Homo sapiens: one gene and its partner. The protein of the gene in region 1 interacts with the protein of each later gene in a biochemical or structural test. Each region holds a gene or a part of one and is shown on either strand. Other genes may lie near its edges.

What was found.
Region 2: the proteins of CDK10 (region 1) and CCNQ form a complex in vitro, tested with the Homo sapiens proteins (one study listed by IntAct).

Annotation. Positions count from the first base shown.
Region 1 is NC_000016.10:89,689,519-89,693,325, forward strand, and holds part of CDK10 (cyclin-dependent kinase 10), read left to right. Parts: intron 1-1,034; coding exon 1,035-1,106; intron 1,107-1,924; coding exon 1,925-2,027; intron 2,028-2,287; coding exon 2,288-2,369; intron 2,370-2,930; coding exon 2,931-2,998; intron 2,999-3,755; coding exon 3,756-3,807. UniProt on the Homo sapiens protein: Cyclin-dependent kinase that phosphorylates the transcription factor ETS2 (in vitro) and positively controls its proteasomal degradation (in cells).
Region 2 is NC_000023.11:153,592,574-153,596,380, reverse strand, and holds part of CCNQ (cyclin-Q), read left to right. Parts: intron 1-193; coding exon 194-377; intron 378-1,701; coding exon 1,702-1,834; intron 1,835-3,647; coding exon 3,648-3,807. UniProt on the Homo sapiens protein: Activating cyclin for the cyclin-associated kinase CDK10.

The DNA of each region.
Region 1 (3,807 bases):
AAGCATCCGGTTGCTAATGCCCATAATCCAAACGTGTCACTGCAGAGTACACAGAACTGTTAGAGAAATAAAATACAGAACTTTCCAGAAGCAGCAGGAGCTGGACATGGTGCTCATGTCTATCACCTCAGCAACTCTGGAGGAGTCACCTGAGCCCAGGTGTTTTTTCTTTTTGTTTGTTTTTGAGATGGGTCTTGCTCTATTGCCCAGACTGGAGTGCAGTGGCATGATCATAGCTCACTGCGGCCTCGACCTCCTAGGCTCAAGTGATCCTCCCACCTCAGCCTCCTGAGTATCTGGGACCACAAGAGTACATAAGCACACCCAGCTAATTTTTAAATTTTTGGTAGAGATGGGATCTCCCTATGTTGCCCAGGCTGGTCTTGAACTTCTGGGCTCAAATGATCCTCCTGCCTCGGCCTCCCAAAGCACTGGGATTACAGGTGTGAGCCACTGCACCCGGCCAAGCCTAGGAGTTTGAGGCTGCAGTGAGCTGTGATCACGCCACTGCACCCCAGCCTTGGCAACAGAGTGAGACCCTGTCTCAAAAAAACCAAAAACACCACACACAACTAAAGGTTATAACAGATGTGAAATTGGCGTAGGTCATTCTGGAAGCTGCACACATTAGCAGGATGTTTTGTAGAGCCATCTTCACACAAAATAAGGTTTGCTTTTTTCTGCATAGAGTACCTTATTTGCTTTTAGGACATTACAAGAGAGCACAAAGCAGTGATCTGCATGCTAAGGAGGACATGGAGAGCCTGGAGCCACAGAACTGAGTGGCTGGAGGCCAGGGTCCAGCACAGAGCAAAGTTGGGCACCCCCTGCCCAGTTCAAATGAGGAAACCCTCCGGGGGAACGCGTCTCGGGCTAGGGGCGTTGCACAGAGTGGGGACTGAGTGTCACTGGGCATGAGGTTGTCAGAGGAAAGAACGGGGACCCCTGTGGCTCAGGGAGAGCCTCCCGTTCAGCGCTAGGGAGCCCACGAGGGGCATCGAGATGATGTCATCACCAATGTGTTTCCATTCCAGATCGGGCCCGGGACACCCAGACAGATGAGATTGTCGCACTGAAGAAGGTGCGGATGGACAAGGAGAAGGATGGTGAGCAGGAAATTGGGGTGTTGGGACCTCGCACTGGGAGGAGGCAGAAGGATGTGAGTTACCTGAAGTTTCCTCAGAGCGACTGCACGGTGCTTGTAGCGGGGGCCGGCCTCTGGGAGGGTTCTGGTGTGGCCCAGCACATCACCCCCAGGTCCACACGCAGCCTCAGCTGTCTGCCAGGAGGGCTCTGCAGTCTCCATCCCCTCCTCCCCCTCCTGTCTGGTGAGGCCACCTCACTGCAGGCTCAGCTCTGCTGTCCCCTCCACCCCCAGCACCTGCCTGTGCAGGCAGGGCCCTGCCATGCCCCACATAGATGTCCACGGTGTTTAGAGAGGTGCCGATTCGTATTTGGTCAAGGAAGAGTTAAAAGTGCTTATTGGGCCGGGCATGGTGGCTCATGCCTGTAATCCCAGCACTTTGGGAGGCCGAGGCAGGCGGATCACCTGAGGTCGGCAGTTCAAGACCAGCCTGACCAACATGGAGAAACCCCATCTCTACTAAAAATACAAAATTAGCCAGGCGTGGTGGCACATGCCTGTAATCCCAGCTACTAGGGAGGCTGAGGCAGGAGAATTGCTTGAACCCGGGAGGCAGAGGTTGCGGTGAGCCGAGATGGTGCCATTGCACTCCAGCCTGGGCAACGAGCGAAACTCCGTCTCAAAAAAAAAAAAATGCTTATTGGGGTCGCCCCAATTCTCCCTGAGGTGGGGACACTGCAGCACCTGCTATCAGGTGTTCGTGAAGCCCAAGAGTGGCTGGGGTTGGGGCTTCCCCGCCATCACTGGGGTGGGGCTCGCTGAGGCCACCTCCCTCCCCAGGCATCCCCATCAGCAGCTTGCGGGAGATCACGCTGCTGCTCCGCCTGCGTCATCCGAACATCGTGGAGCTGAAGGAGGTGGTTGTGGGGAACCACCTGGAGAGGTACGTGGTCTCCTGGTCTGCACATTGGGCCCTAGGGAGCATGTGTCTTGGGCTAGAGGTGTTGCACAGAGCGAGGACTGAGTGTCACTGGGCATGAGGTTGTCAGAGAAGAGATGACCCCACCTCACCGCCTGGCTCAGCCCATTGTCTGAGGGGGACACAGGTTGTCCTGCCCATGTCCCCTCCTGCAGCAGGGGAGGCTCCACTTCCACCCCTTAGGAGAAGGCCGGAGAGTGGCATGCATCTTCTGTTTCTTCCAGCATCTTCCTGGTGATGGGTTACTGTGAGCAGGACCTGGCCAGCCTCCTGGAGAATATGCCAACACCCTTCTCGGAGGCTCAGGTGCGTGGCAGAGGGGCCTGGGGTGGGGGAATGGGCTTCATGGGCCCTTGTGGTGCACATTTATAACGAAACAGGGCACTTGGGGACTTGAAGAGCTGCTGCTGCCTCTGCCTCCACCTCCCAGTGTTTCAGCGAGCTTCAGTGAGGTGGAATTCCTGTGGTGGGGGCATCTGCTGGGAGCGGGCAGCCCCAGGGCCGAGAGCCTTATGAGGGCACTGGTTTCCTGGGCTGTTGGGAGCAGGCAGCCCCGGGGCTGAGAGCCTTCTGAGGGCACTGGTTTCCTGGGCTGCTGGGAGCGGGGAGCCCTGGGCGGAGAGCCTTCTGAGGGCACTGGTTTTCTGGGCTGCTGGGAGAGTGCAGCCCCGGGGCCAAGAGCCTTGTGAGGGCACTGGTTTCCTGGGCTGCTGGGAGCGTGCAGCCCCGGGGCCGAGAGCCTTCTGAGGGCACTGGTTTCCTGGGCTATTGGGACTGCTAGTCCTGCTGGCCAGTGTGGGTGTGGCAGGGCCCAGCTGGGCTTCCCTGCAGGCTCACCCTGACTGGTACCTCTGACCCTCTGCACAGGTCAAGTGCATCGTGCTGCAGGTGCTCCGGGGCCTCCAGTATCTGCACAGGAACTTCATTATCCACAGGTGGGTGACAGCTAGGCAGAGTTGGAAGCACAAATTCGGCTGAGGCCTAACTCTGCTGCCCCTGTGGAGTTACTAAAAGCTCAGGGGTTCCCAGCTGCAGCAGCCTGCCCGCTGCTCGCACTCCATTTGTGTTTTTTTCTAAAATAGAGAAGGGGTCTCTCTGTGTTGCCCAGGCTGGTCTCACACACTTGGGCTCAAGTGATCCACCCACCTTGGCCTCCCAAAGTGCTGGGATTACAGGTGGGAGCCACCACACCCAGGCATGCACTCCGATTTTTAAAAGGTCCAAACATCAACAGCATGTAAGAGTTAATGAAAAAAAAAATAATAAAGATACTACGCCGGGCACAGTGGCTCACGCCTGTGATCCCAGCACTTTGGGAGGCCGAGGCAGGCGGATCACGAGGTCAGGAGATCGAGACCATCCTTGTTAACACAGTGAAACCCCATCTCTACTAAAAATACAAAAAAATTAGCCGGGCGTGGTGGCGGGCGCCTGTAGTCCCAGCTACTTGGGAGGCCGAGGCAGGAGAATGGCGTGAACCCGGGAGGCGGAGCTTGCAGTGAGCCGGGATTGCTCCACTGCACTCCAGCCTGGGCGACAGAGTGAGACTCTGTCTCAAAAAAAAAAAAAAAAGATACTAAAAAGCCCAAAGCTGAGGAAACGTGCAGGAAGTCTACGGGCATTGGTGCCGTGGGGGAGCTCTCAGCCCCTGTGGCCCTCTGGGAGCCACCTGCCACTGTTTTTCCATCACAGGGACCTGAAGGTTTCCAACTTGCTCATGACCGACAAGGGTTGTGTGAAGACA
Region 2 (3,807 bases), on another chromosome or scaffold:
CAGGGGCTTGGGTCACCCACTAGAGTCTGAGAGCCCAGTAAGAGACCCAGCAGGAGCCACTGGCTCTGCTGGAAGTTCTTAGCCTTGTCCAAGTAGGGTTGTACCTGCTAGGGCCCATTCCAATGGCTCCCCTCACTGGAGCAGTGAGCCAGCGCTGGATTGAAGTCCTCTCTTGCCTGCTTTCTCTCCGCAGGTGTCAAGCTAGGGATGCGGTCCATTCCCATTGCCACTGCTTGCACCATTTACCATAAGTTCTTTTGCGAGACCAACCTGGACGCCTATGACCCTTACCTGATTGCCATGTCTTCAATTTACTTGGCCGGCAAAGTGGAAGAGCAGCACCTGCGGACTCGTGACATCATCAATGTGTCCAACAGGTAATGGCATTTGGCTGGGCTCCTGATCTCCACCCGGTGGGGGGGACGGGCAGGGAAGGCTCCTATGGGGCCCTGCCCACCAGGTGCCAGCAATGGAGCTTGGAAGGAAGTACCTGGATGGCCTTGAACCAGGCAGGGCCAGAAACAGTAGCAGCAAACGTGAGAAGGAGCCTGATGTCAGAGGCCAGTGGGGTCTGTGAGAGAAACGCTGGGCCAGATTATGGGGAGCCTCGAAAGCTGGATGGAGGGCAGAGGCGGGGCTTCAGCAGAGGGAGCTTGGAGAGGCATGTCAAAGAAGATTCTGTGGAAGTCTTAGACAGGGATGGCTGCAGGCAGAAGAGCTTGCCTGCAGCGGGAGGGTGCAGACCCAGCCAGGTGGTAGGTCCCAGTTGCTTAGGAGCCTCGCCCTGCTGTGGGTGTGGCGTGGGCATGGCACAGCCGGCCCAAGCAGGTGTGTTCCTGCTGGGGCAGAATGCAGGGTCTTCGCCAAGGCGAGGGAAAGACGGTCTGGGAAATACAAAACTGAGAAATGTTCACTTTTTGGAGTATATCATTCCCATGAGAGGCTTAAACATGTTCCTTGGATGGCTGGACGTGGTGGCTCACGCCTGTGATCCCAGCACTTTGGGAGGCCGAGGCGGGTGGATCGCTTGAGCCCAGGAGTTCAAGACCAGCCTGGTCAACATGGTGAAACCTCGTCTCTACCAAAAATACAAAAATTAGCCGGGCGTGGTGGCGCATGCCTGTGGTTCCAGCTGCTCGGGTAGCTGAGGCGGGAGGATCGCTTGAGCCCAGGAGGTCAAGGCTGCAGTGAGCTGTGGCTGCACCACTGTACTCCAGCCTGAAAGGCAGAGCAAGACCCTGTCTCAAAAAGTAAAAAGTAAAAATAAGTTAAAAAAATACGTTCCTTGGGCCCAGAGTGAGAGCCCCGGGCATTGCCACCTCAGGTGATGAAGACTCCCTAATGCCGGGCTGAGTATAACAGGAAGCACAACCGACTTGGCATGCTCAAGCTTCCGGTTCCTCTGGAGCCATCGCCAACAGCCAGTCTTTGCACTTGACATTTTGCTGAATGATAGCGGACAGCCCATCTGGCTAAAACTAGGAGCTGGCTTCTTTCCTCTGTTGGTTACTGTTTTCATTCTCTACACTAGATGTGGAGATGAAGAATTTTTGTATAAAAACCCAAATAAAATGACCCTCCATGAATCTGCAGATGGACGATGTAGTTTGCATCTGGACATTGTGTGACTTAAGCAATTTGAGCCATCCAGTGCTCAGGAGACTGCCCTGGCTGCTGAAGCATTGCCATTTCTCTGCGCAGGTACTTTAACCCAAGCGGTGAGCCCCTGGAATTGGACTCCCGCTTCTGGGAACTCCGGGACAGCATCGTGCAGTGTGAGCTTCTCATGCTGAGAGTTCTGCGCTTCCAGGTCTCCTTCCAGCATCCACACAAGGTACATACTGGGGAACTGGTGCCTGTTTGGAGAGGCTCAAGCCATGGTCTCTGTTCTTTATCCCAAAAGTGCATCCCATCTCATACTCGAGAGCACAGCACAGAAGGAGAGCAGGGCTGCGGCTGGGAACTGGGTCTCCTGGCTCTGTGTTTGTGGCTGGGTTGGCCGCCCGGCCTCTCCCGTCCCACCCCTGTGGGTTTTCTCAGCCAATTCTCATTTCAGCTTCTGCCTTTCTGCCTGCTCACCTGTGGGCGGGGTCCGTGCTGCCCGCTGAAGCTGTGGCAGCTCCTGTGGTCCATATAGATGGTGTGCACGCTGGGCCTCGGGGAAGCAGGCTGGTTTTGTGACCGGCCAGAGTCCCCGTCCCCAGGGGATGCTGTGATGCCTCGGAGCACGCCTCCAGCTCAGCTGTGCTTAGGAAGCCATGGGGAAAGCCAAATCGCTTGAGTCAAGCAGCATGCTTTAACTTCTAGGAATGTGTGAGTCTCAACAGAAGAACCATTTCAAACAGCAGTAAAAGGGAAAAGTGGAACGCTTAGGCGACTGGCACACGATGCTCTGGGCACCGCAGCTCCATGCACGGGCAGCTCAGAAGGCTGGCCGGAGACAGAGATGGAGGAGTTGTGGTTTGGGGCTCTGGGCTAGGAGTTTCATTCTTTTTCATCGGAACTCTTCCTGAGATCATTGTAGATTCCCATGCAGTTGTGACATGTACCCTTAGCCCAGTCTCCCCCAGGGGTAACACAGCCAGGATGCCAAAACCAACACAGTCCACTGGCATCCTCACTTCCACTTGTATTCCTGTGTGTATATTTTTCTGTTCCATTTTATCACGACTCCGTTCACGGACCTACCACCACAGCCAAGGTGAGAGACGGTTCCACCCGCATGGGCCCTTCGTGTTGCCTTTATAATCTTGCCTCCAGCCTTCCACACTCCCACCTCAGTACCTGGAAAGCCCTGGTCTGGGATTTCTGCGCAGTAGTGTCTTAGTGGGCAGAATGCTTGCTGAGCATCCTGGGGGAAGGTGGGAGATGCCCTGGTGGCTGCAGGGTGGAGTTGTCAAGGCGACAGGGCTTAGGAAAGAGCAGCACTCAGACCTCAAGGGGTGTGTGATCTGTGCCCAGATGGGGAACTGATAGCTTGGTGTGGCTGGGAGCCTGCCAGCCCCTTCCCCTCCTTCCAGTCAGGGCTGGGGTGGAAAGTAACCTATGTATCCCTCCTGCATGGTGTGCTGGGGTCACACGCATGTGTGTTCCAGACTGTCCAGAGAGCTCGCAGCATCTGTCTTATTGTGTGAGGTTCTGGCAAAATGTCAGTGTTCTGAGAGCAGGAGCTGGCAGCTGGGCTGGGAGGTCATTTGGATGTTGTGGCCGAGGACAGCATGTGCCCTTGGCAGCAGGCCAGATGCATGGGGAGCAGCACCTTCTGTTCTGCCCATGAAGAGGGTGCTTTCCGGAGCACCAGGCCCCGAGGAATTTCATGGTGGCCAGAGCGGGCCCTGTGGTGGAGAGGGACTGTGGTGGGGGTGGCCCTCGTAGGTTTCCCTAGAGCTGGGTCTGGAGGGTGAGAGTGGGCAGGTGCATACGGTGAGCTGGTTTCAGGCAGAGGGCTCAGCAAGTGCGAAGGCCCTAGATGGGGTTTGCTGGAAGGCAGGGTGGGATCGGCAGGAGATGGGGCCAGCAGAAGGCCTTGGGGCTTCTTCCTGAGGGACATGGAAGCTGCTGGAGGGTTGGAGCAGGTGCTGATATGATTATGTCAGCATGAGGAGAGCAGCTGGTGGGCCTAAAGGCTGACACACGTGTCTTTGCAGTACCTGCTCCACTACCTGGTTTCCCTCCAGAACTGGCTGAACCGCCACAGCTGGCAGCGGACCCCTGTTGCCGTCACCGCCTGGGCCCTGCTGCGGGACAGCTACCATGGGGCGCTGTGCCTCCGCTTCCAGGCCCAGCACATCGCCGTGGCGGTGCTCT